Linked DNA regions of Homo sapiens: region 2 is linked to region 1. A link means that fine-mapping ties the variant in region 1 to the expression of a gene that starts in the linked region. Tissue or cell type: testis. Region 1 holds a variant in brackets; the other region holds the start of a gene. All regions are shown on one strand. Distances are from middle to middle.

What was found. PIP is the estimated chance that this variant, and not a neighbour inherited with it, causes the effect.
Region 2: it holds the start of RHBDF2, and the variant in region 1 is fine-mapped to the expression of RHBDF2 in testis (GTEx, PIP 0.97).

What each region holds. Positions count from the first base shown.
Region 1 is chr17:76,471,435-76,479,505 of GRCh38, forward strand. RHBDF2 (rhomboid 5 homolog 2) reads right to left here. Exons shown (of 19, transcript NM_001005498.4): 5 at 7,648-7,843; 6 at 7,372-7,575; 7 at 6,223-6,351; 8 at 5,746-5,864; 9 at 5,396-5,590; 10 at 3,596-3,707; 11 at 3,296-3,370; 12 at 2,939-3,100; 13 at 2,599-2,708; 14 at 2,405-2,468; 15 at 2,214-2,308; 16 at 1,818-1,893; 17 at 1,571-1,671; 18 at 1,252-1,405; 1 more. The coding sequence ends at 199. Among named protein-coding and RNA genes, the nearest start is that of AANAT, 7.9 kb to the left of the region's middle. RefSeq lists an enhancer at 1,864-2,374. The variant G/A (reference allele first, on the strand shown) is at 4,444.
Region 2 is chr17:76,498,094-76,506,164 of GRCh38, forward strand. RHBDF2 (rhomboid 5 homolog 2) reads right to left here and starts at 3,330. Exons shown (of 19, transcript NM_001005498.4): 1 at 3,260-3,330. RefSeq lists enhancers at 2,588-3,257, 3,608-3,747 and a silencer at 2,918-3,557.

The sequences.
Region 1 (8,071 bases):
CGCCCCAGAAAAACCCCGCCTTAACCAACCATCTCACGCGGAGTCAGCCTCGCCTGGCAGGGGGGCACCCAGGTCCAGAGCCCGGGCCCTGTCTTGGGTCTCTGGCTCTCTGGCACACAGAGAGCGCTCTGCAGAGGGCAGCCCTCGCAGGCAGACCCTGTTCCAGCAGGGCTGAGGGGCAGCCGTGTGGCCCAGCGGTCAGTGCAGCACCTGGTCCAGCTCATACTTCTCGCAGAAGCGGCTGGTGAAGGGGAAGCAGGTGAGGTGCTCGATCCAGGGCCAGTTAATGGGGTAGATGTACAGCCACAGCACGAGGGCGGCGAAGAGGCCGGCAAAGGCCAGCAGTGACACCAGGATGAGTGCCCGCTTGCGGTACTTGTCGCTGGTGCCGAAGGTGATGTAGGGCAGGAAGGCGAAGGCCAGCAGCAGGCCACTGAGGAAGCCGAAGATGTGGGCGATGTTGTCGATCCAGGGCAGGAGGCCACAGATGAACAGGAAGAGCACGATGGCCGAGAGGTTGAGGAAGGCCTTCCAGGGCCTCTCCAGCAGCGGCCAGCTCTGGAAGAGCTCCACGAAGAGGCAGGCGAGGAGGCCGAACTGTGAGCCGGCCGGGCCCACCTGGGGCGGGGCAGGGGAGACGTGGCTTCAGGCATCAGGTGGGTGGCCTGGGCCGGGCCTGCACCCTGGGTCATCCCATCGATCAGCTCCTCCCTGGCAGGCATGGGGACCCCTGAGGCTGAGGGGCAGGGGGTCGGCTGGAGCTGCTGGACCAAAGCTGGGCCTGCTCCGCCCATTCTTTCAGCAAACACTGAGCGCCTACTGTGTACGTGCCTGGTGTGGGTCCGTAGCAATAAGCAAGACAGACAAGCCTGTTCCAGGCCGCACACGGTGGGGAGAGGACGGACACTGAACAAACTAGATCAGTCAGGTGGAACTGATCAGACTGCCGACGGCGCACGGAGGCCATTTCCTACCGCTCGACCTGCAGATACCTAGCATACTGTCAGGCAGTGGGCACGGTTAGGAAGATAAATGAGGCGGTGGAGGGACAGGGTGACTCAAGAGCATCACTGTTCCCTCTCACTGGGATTAAGAGACCAGCCAGTAAGCCCCCAGATTAGCTGTCCCTCCGCTGTGGAGCCCAGTACAGGAGGGGCACCGTGTCCCTCTGGCAGATCCCAGGTGGGTGGAATAGGAGCAGCAGGGCTGGCCCCCTATGTGCGGAAGGGGTCCCATCCTCCACATCCTTACCTCTGCCCGGTATGGGAGAAAGATGGCACTGGCGAGGTTGCCTGTGATGCCACTGAGGATGAAGATGATGGCGATACGGTGCCAGCCGGCCAGCTTCTCCAGGTCCCTCAGGATGGTCATTTGAAAGACCACAGACACGAGGCAGTGCACCACGCTGGGGGAGGGACACACCAGGCAGCGGCCTTCAGCCAGGCACTTCAGGAGCAGTAGGCTTCGGCAGGTTGGGCCGGCCATGCCCTGGCCCAGGAACCTTTCCCCAGGGGTCCGGCTGGGTGGCCATCACAGGGGTCGGGTTCGGGGGCAGTGAGGAGCCTCTTACCCAGCATGTAGGAAGAGAGACAGCCAGAGCCTGTAGAACTGATCTGGGACCTCAGGGTTGAGGAAGGGCAGCAGCCCACACACCTTGTCCAAGCAGTGCACCTGGGAGTGGGCATATGGTGCTCAGCGCCCCAGAAGCAGGCTGAGTCTGAGGCTCCGACATGGGAGGGAGTGCGTGAGCCCCGGCCCCAGCAGGCTGCCATGCCCAGCGTCCTCTCCTCCACTACTCCAGGCCTGCCTCGCCTCACCTGGGAGCAGAGTGTTGCTTCCTCATGGAAATAGCCGTGCATGAACTCACAGTATTCCCGGGTGGTGATCTCACAGCTAAGGGGGTGGTGAGGCAAGAGGGGACATCAGGGCGCCGAATAACCACTGCCCACCTTTGCCCAGAGCCCAGCACCTGGCTACAGGAGGCATCGCTGGCAGGAAGGGGGATGCCGCATCCAGAACCTTCGACTCTGGAGCAAGCTTCCTTCCTCCAGCTCGCACCATGGGTAGCCCCAGAGCAGGGGAGCAAAGGACAGTTATTGGAGGGCATCGGCCCAGCGGCTGTGGGTGGTGACGGTGGAGGAGCAGAGGGCCCACAGGAAGCCGCAGCTCGGGGGGGCAGTGGGATGGCTGAGGCCAGGGCCCAGGTCGCTCACCTGCCCTTGGTGCCGATGCAGCAGGGGCGGCCCTTGATCTCGCAGTCCATGTGCAGGAAGCCTGTGTGGTTGCTCCTGGCCTGCTCTGTGCAGATCTGCCAGGAGGGGGCACCGGCAGGGAAGTGGGCTGTGCAGCAGGCAGGTCCCCCATCCCTGACCTTCCCAGACCACTCCCCGCCAGGGACACTCACCGGCCACTTAGTGATGTCATCGGGCCAGATGTGGGCACCGCTGGAGGCTGGCTCCTCGCAGGTCCTGGAGACAGGGTTCAGATTGGGCTGTGGCACACCCAGCGTGCCACGTCCACCTACCCACGTCCCTGTGGGTGGCTCAGATGGCATGGCTATGCCTGACCCTGAGGCCCAGCAGAGGCTCCAGGCCCTACCTGGGGTCCTGGTGGCAGACAGCCCCCGAAGTCCGCTTCTGGCCCAGATCAGACTTGTCCATGGGGGGCCCAGTGTCATCCTGCCACTTGACAAAAGTGGCCAAAGTCTCCTGGAGGGCAGAAGAAGGCTGGTGGGTCATGTCGGGGCCAGGTCACCCCCACTGGAGTGGGCAAGGACAGAGGCTTTTCCCATCTCCCCAGGGCTCAGTCTCATCTATGGGGGTCTGGGAAAGGTGGGGCGGGGAGGAGGGAACGTGGTCACTGCCCTTGAAGGACAGGGCAAGTGGAGCTAGTCCGGGACCAGGGTCTGGCAGGGGTAGGAGGGAGGGCCTGCCCCCACCGAGCAGTCCTTCCGCTGGGTCTGGATGCATCCGGAGTGGTCATTCTGGACACAGCAGCCTGAGTCCCGCTCCAGGTCTCGCTCGCGCAGCACCAGCTGCTCGATCTGCCCGTCCTTCCGGATGCAGGGTGAGAACTTGGCCCCCAGGTGGATCAGGTCAATCTGGGGAAGGGAAAGGGAGGGGAGAGAGTGAGTTTGAGCCCCAGACCTGGGAGGGGTCCATCACTCCACCTCTGCCCCGCAGAGTCTCCCCTGATGAGGGGCCTGCGGGTGGGTGAGGAGCCCACCTGCCCAGCTGGGAGTGACAGGGCACAGGGACTCCTGGCTCAGATGATGTCCCCCAGCCTGGGCCCTCACCGAGCTGGGGCCAACCCAGAAGTTCTCCTGCTGGATGTACTTCACGCTCTCGTACACACCTTTGTTCCGCAGCACCTATCGTGGAGGTAGCACAGAGGAGGGCGTCAGAACAGTGTGGGCCCTGGGCATGGGGAGCTGGGGCAGCTGTCCCCAGGATAGAGCCTCCAGGAAGGGGCCAGGCTATGGTGAGCACCACCCTGCTGGGGCCAGATTGTTGCGGTGGGAGGGATTAGGTACCCACGACACTGAGGCCTCCTAGGAGAGGCTGGGACCCCCAGCATGGAGCCTGACCCGACTCACCAGCTGGGTGGTGACGTGCTGGGCAAAGCCCACGGGTGCGATGCCATACGTGCAAATCACCAGCAGCGTGATGATGACATGGACGAAGGTCAGCCAGTAGGTGAAGTAGGGCCTGTGCAGAGACACCTCGGGTCAGCTGAGCCGAGCTCCTATCCCAACCCCCAGTCCCGGCCACAGGGCCACCCTGGCCTGGTCACATGGCTCGCCTGGGCTCCCTGTTCTGCCCCGTCAACTCATCTCAAACCAGAGGAACTTTTAAGACGAGCCTCCAAGCATCTCTCTCCTAGCTTAAAACCTTTTGATAGCTTTCCACTGGCCTTGGGACAAATTCCAGAATCACCCCCTCTTGCTGGCTGCAAAGCTTTGCCTGACCGACCACCTCTCTGGCCTCTTTGCCTGCATTTCCTGGGATGTACTTTGCCCTTCCAGCCCCAGGGCCTTTGCACATGACATCACAGTTTGTCCTGACTGCACCCCTCCCCACCAGCTGTTCACTCTCCCTCTCTATCCTCCTCCGGGACACCCACCACACCTATCATTGCTTGTTCTTTTCTTTTCTTTTTTTTTTTTTGAGACAGAGTCTCGCTCTGTCACCTAGGCTGGAATGCAGTTGTGCGATCTCAGCTCACTGCAACCTTCGCCCCCAGGTTCAAGCGATTCTCCTGCCTCAGCCTCCCTCGTAGCTGGGATTACAAGCACCCACCATACCTGCCTAATTTTGTTTGTCTTTTTAGTAGAGACCAGTTTTCACTGTGTTGGCCAGGCTGGTCTCGAACTCCTGACCTCAGGTGATCTGCCCACCTAGGCCTCCCGAAGTGCTGGGATTACAGGTGTGAGCCACCGGGCCT[G/A]GCCATTGCTTGTTATTTTCTTTTTCTTTTCTTTCTTTTTTTTTTGAGATGGAATTTCGCTCTTGTTGCCCAGGCTGGAGTACAATGGTGCGATCCTGGCTCACTGCAACCTCTGCCTCCCAGGTTCAAGTGATTCTCCTGCCTCAAGCCTCCCGAGTAGCTGGGATTACAGGCATGCACCACCACGCCCGGCTAATTTTTTGTATTTTTAGTAGAGATGGGGTTTCACCATGTTGGCCAGGCTGGTCTTGAACTCCTGACCTCAGGTGATCCGCCTGCCTCGGCCTCAGAAAGTGCTGGAATTACAGGCGTGAGCCACCGCGCCCTGCCTGCTTGTTATTTTCTAATTTGGGCCCAGTGTTTATTGGGCTGCTGCAAATCAGATGCCCTGTTCTTCCCCAAGGGCTCTGCATAGCCTCTCCCAGAGTCCCCTCCCTCCCAGCCCCAGCTTCTTCTTTTAAAGTAGAGGTAGGGTCTCACTATGTTGCCCAGGCTGGTCTCAAACTCCTAGGCTCAAGCAATCCTTCTGACTCAGCCTCCCAAAGTGCTATAATTACAAGTGTGAGCCACGGCGCCCAGCCCTGGCCCCAGCTTCTAACTGTCCTCTGACCGACCCTGCCCTCCCTGCTCCACCCTCTGGGGGTTCCATTTTAGGGCCTGCAGGCAGTGACACTCAATGAACATTTGTTGACTGACTGCTGTCTGGGAGCAAGGCTGGGGACCAGGCTCAGAAAGCATGGGGTGGAAGAGAGGCAGCAAGCACCCCTGGCCCTTCCCAGGTCATGTGCACAACCCTTGGGACAGGGTGCGCCTTCGAGCTTGTCACTACACTCCTGATCCGCAGAAGATGCTCATGAAACACTTGCTGAATGAGTAAGGGGGCGCTTCAGGAGGGCCCAGAGGAATTTGGAACCTTCCAGGCTCTCCTGGGGGCTCCAGGGCGACACCTCACCGGTGGCTGTCGAAGCTCTCCAGCTGCCGCTGCACAGTGCTGCTGATGCTGCGGCGGTAGCTGCGGTTCAGCCAGTTGCCCACCACGCCGAGGCCGTAGTGCCGCTTCTTCCGATCAAAGGCAAAGTGCTTCACCTTGGAGGCGATGCGCTTGCCGCGCCGGGGCCCGGGGACTGGGGCTCGGCCATACTCCTTCCTGGTGGGGATGGTGGCTTTCAGCCTGAATCCCCCACCAAAATACTCCCAGACCCCACCAGGGTGCTCAGAAGGGGCTTGGGGGCCAGGGTGAGGTCTGGGGATGCCCCCAGGCTGGTGGCTGGCCTGGAGGAGGGACTCTGCCCCAGCACTCACAGAGGGATTTGCACCCCATCGGGGGAGACAGGGGAGGCTGAGTGTGGGATCCCTCGGAAGTAGCTGGCAGAGAGTGGGGGGGACTCAAAGACATCATCAGGCATGGAGCTCATTTCTTCCTGGGGTGGGGGACAAGAAAATACAGTGTAAGGAGTCTGTCCCAAACACTGCCCCCCGGAACCTCAATTCAAGGGCAGGACACAGCTGAACAGACGGGCTCTTCACAATGAATTGGGAAGCCACATGCCCGTCAGCCCCAATGGTGACTTTCCCGGGTGGCACTGTGCCCCACCGCAGGTCTTCACCCTACCCAACAGAAAGATGGGGGCCCAGCAGCTCCACATAGGACCATGCCACATCCCAGCAGTGGGCCTCTGGGTCCCTCAGGGGTTCCTGAATATGATCAATGCCAAGGTCACCTCACCCAGCTCCCAGGCCACCCCACCCAACTCCTGCTGTCCCACACCCCATGCTTGCCTTACTAAAAAAGGAGGAGTCAAACGTGTCTGCCCCATCGACCACATCCTCCTCCAGGAAGCTCGGGAAGGCAAAGCTGCGCTTGACCACCCGGCACCGCTGTCCGGTGGCATCCAGCACCGAGCGCCCCTGTGCACGGGCAGAGGCACAGCCATCAGGACCACAGCCTGGCCACCTAGGCCCCCAGCCCCAACACCGAAGGAATCATCAAGCCCATCCGCCTGCAGGCAGCGCCTTGGGAGGAGGGATCCTGCCCAAAGCGTGGAGATTCTGCAAGCTGAACGGGCAAGAGGAGCTCCTGAGACTGGAAGGCCAGGAAATGAGACACCAGCTTCCGTTGGCACACCACTCTTGGCACAGTTTGGAGTCACCTTTCCCTTGGTCCCTGCTGCCCCTCTGCCTTGGGCTGCTGGTACCCTAACACTCAAAGCAACCCACATTCTATACCCTCACTCCCGAGGCTTGGGCCATGTCTCCCTGTCCCTGTTTCTTGGCACGGAATACCAGGTCCCTGCCCACCTTTCTGACCCCATCTCCTGCCACAGCTCCTATAACCACCCTTCACTAAAACCACATCAAACCGCCTGCTGCCCCCTCAAAGCACTGTACTTCCTCTGGGCTCCTGGCCCTTGCATAGGCCATTCCCTCTGCTGAGAATGCTGTTCCCTTCCTTCCCTAGTGAACGTCTCCTTGTGTCTTCTGGGCTTAACTCAATGTCTTCCCTGATAACAGCCGCTCTCCTAAACTGACCACCCTGAATGGTGACCCTCACCCTGGGCTGCGAGCTCAGCCAGGATGGCGATGGCTCTGCACGCGGTGCCCAGCACGTAACAGGGACTTGGAAAACCCGGGTGGATGAGGAGCAAGTATGCATCTCACTTCCCACTTCCCCAGCTTAAGAGTCAGTGCAGAGACCAGGTTCCAAAACTTGGCAGGGGGTCACACGAGATTTAAGACAGAAGGATGGACGCCTGGGTGCTGGGCTTCGGGGTCCCTCTTTGCCCAGGGATCCCAGCACATCCACTGTCCTTGGCACCGTAGGCAGATGCCCAGGTGAGCTTTAGGGGATGCTACTATGAGGAGTGGAAGGGAGGGGCAAGGAAGGGAGGCCGGGCAGAGGTGGGGGCCCTGCAGGAGGGAGCCCCGCACCTTGAGGAGGGCAGCGGCAGCTTGCAAGCTCATGTGGGCCACAGACATTCTCTTGCGGCGTGGCAGGTGGGAGTAGCCAGAACGGACACTGGTGAAGGAGGTGAGGGACAGGACTCCGGGGGTCAGCGGTGGGTGCGGGGCGTGGGGCCTGTCCATCTCCTCCGGGTGGCGGAAGGCCCGGCCCCGGGCCAGCGGATCCACAATCTGGAAGGGAGGGGGGCGGTAAGCAGAGCCATTAGGGTCCCCACCCCTGCCTCCTTTCCCCATGGATCCCACCTTGGGCATCTTGCAGGGCTTTGGGGACTCAGTGCCCTGGAAGGACGGTGCCTCCTGGCTGGGGAGCTCCAGGTCACGCTGGCACGAGGCCTTCAGGCGGCCGTAGCGCATGCTGCAGTGGTGCAGGCTGCGGCGCTGCCACTGCTGCCGCTGCCCCTCCCAGTCGCCGCTGACTCCAAACCACTGGGCTGCGCCCCTGCGGAAGCAGACAAGGGACAGGTGGGCATACGCTTGTCTACGCCTGTGCACCTGAGTGTGTGGAAGGGGTGATGGCACGTGTGTGCCCGCGTGCCTACAGGGAGGTGGGGGGCGGATCTGCCTGTGAGGCCCCTGGCTGGAGCCCAGTGACCAGATGAGCAGAAGCAGGGGATGACGGGAGCGTGAGGAGCCAGGCTAGGGCCCCAGGCACCCCCACACTGATCCA
Region 2 (8,071 bases), 27 kb after region 1:
CTTACACCCATCCTAGGTCTCCTGGGAGGCAAAACGACGTTCCGGGCAGGCTTGGTTTCCCTGTGAAGCCGCCCGTGCCCTGAGAGCTGTCCCTGCCTAGCCACCACCACCGCCGAGGTCAGCCTGTACTTGGGCAGGCGCAGACGTCCCCGCCACTCCTCCCCCAGCCTGGCTCAGCTGGATAGGAAACTGGGAGCCGCTTCCGACAGCCAGCGCTTCCACAGCCGGTGCAGATGCCTGAGCTCACTCTGGAAATCCCCTGGGGCAGATGGGGCAGCGCCGAGGCCTGCTCCAGAGTGCGAGGCACAGAGATCTGAGGAGAGTGTGGAGGGGGAGAGGCAGCCAGGAGGGCACACGTCTTCCCTGTGCTGTGCCAGCGGCAGGCGGGGGCCAGGCCCAAAGGGAAGCACCAGCCAGCTGAGCCATGCCACTCGCACACTCACGGGCAGGCGTGCACAGCTCCTTGACTTCTGCTGTCATCTGTCACCTTGTCTGGGGCAGAGTTTACACAGCAAGGACAGAAACCTTGGTGGAGAGGCCACCACAGTATCCAGAGCTGAGGCCACAGGAAAAACAGCACCACTGACCCCAGAGCAGGACTCGGGCCCCAAGTGCGTCACCCAAAGCATTTGTAGTGTGATTTATTCCTCCTCTTATAGGAACAAAAGTCCCCCTCCTGGGCTGGAGAGAAAGAGAGTGTGTGTGTGTGTGTGTGTGTGTGTGTGTGTGTGAGTCTGTGTGTGTCTGTGTGTTTGTGTGTGTCTCTGTGTGTCTGTTTGTGTGTGTCTGTGTGTGTGTGTGGTTACACCAGGTACAGACAGGTAGGAGTCACTGAGGGTTTGTTCGTGGGGCTCTTGGGTGGGGCCTGAGGGTGGGCAACTGGGTTCACACCCGAGCTCCACTGCCGACTTCCTGAACAACTTTGTACAAGCCTGGGTGCTCAGCCCTGTCCCTTGAGAGGCTCACAGCAATGGAGGCCACTTTTGTTTTTTGTGCAAATGAAAAGGTGGGAGTTTCACTTCAGCCTTTTACAGTCAAGAGACCAAAAAAACAAAAACAAAAACAAAACAAAACAAAAAAAACAAAAGCCACCAACACCAACAAAAAGAACCCAAGCTCGAAACCTCCACCAGGGTTCCCAGGCAAGAAGGCTGGGTCCAGAAGTGAACAGGATGGGTATAATGGCTACTGCAAGAAAACAGGGAGGGAGGGCAGCGAGGTGGCCCCAGCTCCTGGGCATGGACGTGGCTGCTTCATCCGATCCTCTCCCACCGTGCCAGCCACCCCTCCTTGTTGCCAGAAAACTGGAAGTACATTCCTCCAGCCCAATACAAACAACTCTGAGTCATCCCTACTGGGGGGCCACCTGGCCTGTGCTTTGATGTCTCCCATCTCTCACCTCTGCTCAGCTAACACCATGGGCAGGGGTGCCTCCACCCCATCAGCAGCTGGGCCCACTCCAGGGCTCGTCAGCTAACCCAGGGTGCCCTCTTTATTGCAGGACAAAAGCAGCCTGGGGACCCCCCAGGAATTAGGAGCCCTGATACTCCTTGGATGTCACTTTCAAAAGGTGTACATAATTGGAGGAGTTAGGTGTGAGTTCAGAAGGGAAAATTCCAGCAGGTCACATGGTATCAGGCAACCATGCCAGCTTCAGCAATCCAGCTTTGGGAAAATCTATGGGAAGAGAGCTCGCCCTCTGCCCACCCTCCCAGCCCAGGGATATTTGAGCTCAAGGGCTGCCTCAGCCCAGCCTTCCTGGGAGATTGCCCTGGGGTTAAGCACCCCAGGCCTGGGCTGCAAGGGGGTCCTCTGTTCCCAACCTCTCCCCCACAGCACCTAGACCAGCTTCCTGCAGGGCCAGTGGAGATTGGGAAAGGCGGTGTCTCATGGCACCAAAGGAAGACTCTTGTGAGGGGAATAAGTGCCCTCACACTGCCTTACCCCTCATCTCATTCAGGTTTATTCCAAGTTCCTCCCCTAACCACTCTGGAAAACTGAGGTAGTTTCCCCAGTGAGGGAGCATCATTGAGAAGGAACCTGATGGACCAGCTGCTGCGCAGGGTTTCTCAGCCTCAGCACAGCCCAACACCTTGGGCTGGATAATTCCTCGTTATGTGGGCTGTTCCGTGCCCTGAAGATGTCTGGTAGCGTCCCTGGCCTCTACCCACTACCTGCCAGTAACAACAACACTCACTTCCCCTCCCAAGTGTGTGACACCCAAAATGACTCCAACATTGCCAAATATCCCATGGCAGGCAAAGTCGCCCCTGGTTGAGAACCACAGCTCTAAAACACGCCTCCCTTTCCACTGCCTGCCCTACGGACAGTGAGGGTCGAATAAGGCAGATGCTGGTCTCATTATATTACCAGCAAATGGCACACACTGGGGGCCTGATGCCAGCCGCCCAGGCAACAGCAGCCTCTCCCCAAGTGGGGTCAGCTCCCCACCGCCTTCTGCTCCTCAGACACACCCGCTGCCACCCTCTCAGTAGCTCCAACCCTAGAGCCCCCTCCGTTAATCTTTCATGGAATGGGGCAGGGCCAAAACCTAGGCTTCCTTTGCGCCCTGGCGTGGGAGTGGGGCGGGGTCTGTACCCTAGGGAACTTATCCGTCTCTATCCCAATGCCCTGGGGGAACATCCGAGGGGCCAAACAGGTAAAAGGCAAGCCCAGGGCCAACCTTCCCCAGCCCCTCCATCCAGAAGTCAGGACTCCTGGGTCCAATTTCTGAGCTCCGGTCCAGCCCTGCTGTGTGAGTCCCTCATCCCCACCCCCGCACCTGTTTCCACCTTGGCTGGCTCAACCAACAAACTTCGGCCCCGGTCCGCCCGGTGCTCACCCGGGAGAAAGTGGAGGGGAGAGAAGGGTCTGAACTGCAGGCACTTCTGGGACGCAGGCGGGACTGCCCTGCGCAGTCTCCTCTCTTCCTCCGGAGGTTTAAATCTCTGCCCAATCGTCTTGCCCCTACATCTGGCGCCCCGTCGCCCAGGGACCCCTTAGGCGTCCTGTCCGAGCCGAGCCCTAGGGGCCAGCAGACCGGGTCCAGCGGCCCCGCCGGCGCCGTCTGAGCCAGCCCGGGCCTCCAGCCGAGCCCACGTGGGACCCAGGCGCTCCGCAGGGCGGGCACCGGGCACTGGGCACCCTTCCTGGCCGCGCACCACCGCTCCAGGGCAGGCTCGGGCACAACCTCGGGACCCTTCCGGCGCCTGCGGCTGGGCGGCCGTGAGTCCTGCCCCGCTCGTCGCCCCGCGCTCACCTCCCTGCGGCCCCAAGTCCCCGGGACGCAACTCCGTGCGGCGCCTGCGAGCGGCTGGGCGGTGGCTCCTCGGGGGCGGGGCGGCGGCGCTCCGCCTCTTCCCTACCTGCGCGCGGGCGGCCGGGAGGCGGGGCTGGGCTCCAGGGGGCGTGGCCGGGCTCATGGGGGCGGGGCCTGGACGCAGTCTTTGCTCAGTCGGCTTCCTGGGTTCCTGCCTCCGCCCTCCACCCAGCTGGGTCCCCGCCTGGGCAGAGCCCTGTTTTCGCCTGAGCTGGTCTCTTCAGGGCGCCGTCCTTTCCCTCTTGGCGTCCTCACTCCACCCCAGACCAAACACGTCATCTAGGTCTTGATTGCCGTCTTCAAGTCGCCCCTCCCCATCAAGAAAAAGCACCCAATCTCCCATCCCCTTCTTCCAGCGCCCTCATCCTCAGGCCAAGTGGGCCTGTTCCCTTGACCCTTTTAGTCTGTAGTCACACTCTCTCCGGGAAGCTGGGCCTGAACACCTCCTCTCCCTCCTGGACCCTGAGGCCTCTCTCCTAGCTCTGCTGTGCCCTTGGGTTGGGAACAGGCACTCCGTGGAGGTCCTATCTGCATTTGCCCTGCAGCTAAGGCCAACATTTGTGACTCCTGCCAACCCCCTACACACCCCGTAGAAGCATTGACAGAACCCACCCAGCTCTGGCCCTTCCAGCTGCCATGCGGGCCAGAGCCAGACTGGAGATTGGGGACGCTGGCGACACCTGGCCCCTTGGCTTGGGTCTGTCTGCCCAGGTGGTTCCTTCTCTCTTCCCTGGACTCCAAGGGCCTGCCTCTTGGGACTAGACAAACAAAACCTTGGCCAGGGCAGCTAGGACCGAACTCCAAGGTCTGGATGCCCCGTTCTCAGCCCCAGCGCTTATCATCTCGCCGTCCCTCTCCAGGAGGCCTGGCTAGGCCAGGAGGAGCAGAGTTTGAAGAGACTCAGGCTTGGAGGGGTGGGGGTGGGGTTGTCAGGGCCAAGGCAAAACCTCTGGCCCTTAGAGAGCTCCTGAGCCACCCTGCCCCCCAACCCAAGGACTCTGGTGTTTATTGCTGACCTGGGTGGAGGTGGGGAGCACCTGGCTGCTGGAGATTATCCTGAGAGATGCATCTCTCCTCCCCAGCTCTGGGGCCATGAGGAGGGCACAGGCTGGAAGGAGGGGGAGTGGGCCAAAGCTGGGGTGGGGGTTGCTCCTAGTAACAAATGTAAGGGACCATTTATTGTGCAACCAGCACATCCTGGGGTTATGTGCAGAGAGGAACAAAACCAGGGCCTGCCCACGAAGTGCCAGCATTCTACAGGGAGACGTTGGAACTCAATACTGTAACAGGAAGGGTGAGAGCAGCTAGCCATTCCAAAGTGCTTTAGTCTGTATAATCCGCAGTACAGGTCTATGAAGTGGGTACCATTATGATCATCCCCATTTTAGGGATGAGAAAACTGAGGCAGAGGGAGATGTGAGGGGAGCAGCTGGGGTTTAAACTCGGTCATGATCTGACTTTAGACTCTAACAAACACTGCTGCAAATGCCTGAGCTGGGTTCTCTCTCCTGGAGCTCTACTGGAAGCTCTGCAGGAGTCCCCAGGAGGGGAGGGATTCATGGTGGTGCTTAAGCTGGTGTCAGGGATTTGTCCCATGCAAACATGGCGTGCTGCCCGGCCACATAGGTGCAGGGAGGCTGATTACAGCCTTGGCTGCAGCAACACGCACCTGTGAGGCCAGAGAGGGAAGAATGTTAAATAGGCCAGGGGTATAACTTGTGATAATGTCACACAGCTGTTAAAAGCAACGAGGCAGCTATCCATGTACTGAGAAAGGAATTATCTCCAACTTATAGTAAGTTAAAAAAAAAAAAGCAAGCTGCATGTTTAGTATAATCCTATTTACCTAAATTTAAATAGAACAGACATATATATGTTGGTAGATCCATACAAACTTTCTGGAAGGATATCTGTGGAGTAACCCTGCAGGGGTTTAGGGGGAGAGAGTCACTTGCTTTTCATTTTGTATCATGTGCATATATTACTTACATAACTTAAAGAGAAACACTGTCTAAACTCTTTGTTTTTGTTTTGAGACAAGGTTTTGGTGTCACCCAGGCTGGAGTACAGTATACTCATGGCTTATTGCAGCCTCGACCTCTGGGGCTCAAGTGATCCTCCCACTTCAGCCTCCTGAGTAGCTGGGACTATAGGTGCACGCCATCCTTTCTGGCTAACTAAATTTTTTTTTTGTAGAGATGGTGGTGGGCGGTGGGGGGGGGCCTCACTACGTCGCTCAGGCTGGCCTCAAACTCCTGGATTCAAGTGATCCTGCTTTGGCCTCCAAAATCGGTGGGATTACACTTTACATATTTTACTTTTATAACTTAAAGAAAAACACTGTTGGCCGGGCGCAGTGGCTCACTCCTGTAATACCAGCATTTTGGGAGGCCGAGGCGGGCAGATCACCTGAGGTCGGGAGTTCGAGACCAGCCTGGCCAACATGGAGAAACCCCATCTCTACTAAAAATACAAAATTAGCCAGGCGTGGTGGCACATGCCTGTAATCCCAGCTACTCGGGAGGCTGAGGCAGGAGAATCGCTTGAACCCGGGAGGCAGAGGTTGCAGTGAGCTGAGATTGCACCATTGCACTCCAGCCTAAGCAATAAGAGGGAAACTCTGTCTCAAAAAAAAAAAAAAAAAAAAAAGGAAAAGAAAAAGAAAGAATAAGTGAAAAACACCGTCTAAGCTTTTTTATTTTTATGGACCTACAGGTGTAGGGAAGATCTTCACAGATTGGGATAAGGAAAGGGATTTCTAGTGGGAAGAACAAGAACGAAGACACAGCCGGGAAACTGGCTGTGGTGGGGAAGCTTCTGGTGCTATGGCTTGGCTACATCGCAGGCTGTGTGAGGAGGAGGACAGGAGAAGCCTGGGGAGGCAGCGGGGGCTCAGGGTGGAGGCTGCTGTGTGTCTGGATAAGGGTTTTTACTTTCTTCTGTAAGCAAGGGGGAGCCCATGAGGCATTCTTCAACTAGGAAATTGCACCCTCATATTTTCTGCTTGTGTCCCCTCCTTTAAAACATGCTTTCACAGACACTATTTCATTTATTATTATTATTTATTTATTTTTGAACCGCAGTCTCGCTCTGTCGCCAGGCTGGAGTGCAGTGGCGCAATCTCCACTCACTGCAACCTCGGCCTTCTGGGTTCAAGTGATTCTCGTGTCTCAGTTTCCCGAGCAGCTGGGATTACAGGCATGCGCCACCACATCCAACTAATTTTTTTTTTTTGAGACAGAGTTTCTCTCTTGTTGCCCAGGCTGGAGTGCAATGGCGCAATCTCGGCTCACCACAACCTCCACCTCTCGGGTTCAAGCGATTCTCCTGCCTCAGCCTCCCAAGTAGCTGGGATTACAGGCATGCACCACCACACCTGGCTAATTTTGTATATTTTTAGTAGAGATGGGGTTTCTCCATGTTGGTCAGGCTGGTCTCGAACTCCCAACCTCAGGTGATCCTCCTGCCTCTGTCTCCCAAAGTGCTGGGATTACAAGTATGAGCCACTGTGCCTGGCCTTTTTTTTTGTATTTTTAGTAGAGATGGGGTTTCACCATATTGGCCAGGATGGTCTCGATCTCCTGACCTCGTGATCTGCCCACTTCAGCCTCCCAAAGCACTGGGATTACAGGTGTGAGCCACTGTGCCCGGCCTATTATTATTTTTTGAGGCCGTTATCTTGCTCTGTCATCCAGGCTGGAGTGCAGTGGTACAATGGGAATCACTGTAGCCTCAACCTCCTGGGCTCAAGTGATCCTCCCACCTCAACCTCCTGAGTAGCTGGGACTACAGGCCACCACACTCAGCTAATTTTGCTTTATTGTTTGTAGAGATGGAGGTCTCACTATGTTGCCCAGGCTGGTCTTGAACTCCTGGACTCAAGCGATCTTCCCGCCTCGGCCTCCCACAGTGCTGGGTTTACAGGCATGAGCCACTGCGCCCAGCCTATTTTATTTTTTAAATCTTGACAACAATTCTGCAGATAGGCAGGTCAGGCTTTACAGATGAGGACACTGAGGCTGCTGTGGAATTAAGACCAGCGACAGAGTTTGACATTGAGAAGCGTTGGTCCTCAGTGAGTACTGCCTTAGAGGAAGGCAGGAGAACATGCCCCAGAGAGGGACCCACCCTGGGAACTGCACACCCTGAGACCCCCTCAAGACTCACTTTGTGATCCTCGGAAGAAAAGGGCAGAGGGTCTTGAAGCCATTAGTTAGCAAACTCAGAAAAGCTCCGACAACACACCTTTGAAGGACGCCCTGGTATTTGTCCACGGGAGTAAAATATTAGGGGTCTATGTTTAGCTTTTTTCATTTTTAGAACGTGAGCGGCCGGGTGTGGTGGCTCACACCTGTAATCCCAGCACTTTCGGAGGCCAAGCCGGTGGTGGATCACTTGAGGTCAGGAATTCGAGACCCACCTGGACAACATGATGGAACCCCCATCTCTACTAAAAATACAAAAATTAGCCAGGCATGATCGCACATGCCTGTAATCCCAGCTACTTGGGAGGCTGAGGCAGGAGAATCGCTTGAACCTGGGAGGTGGAGGCTGCAGTGAGCTGAGATCGCGCCTCTGCACTCCACCCTGGGCGACAGAGTGAGACTCCATCTCAAAAAAAAAAAAAAAAAAAAAAAAAGGAACAGTGAATCTTTTGAATGAGAGGATGCTGGATGCTGACTTCCTTGTCAAGGTTCAGAGAAGTGTAGGACTGTGCCCAAGAACGCACAGGTGGTGAGAGAGAGCAGGGCT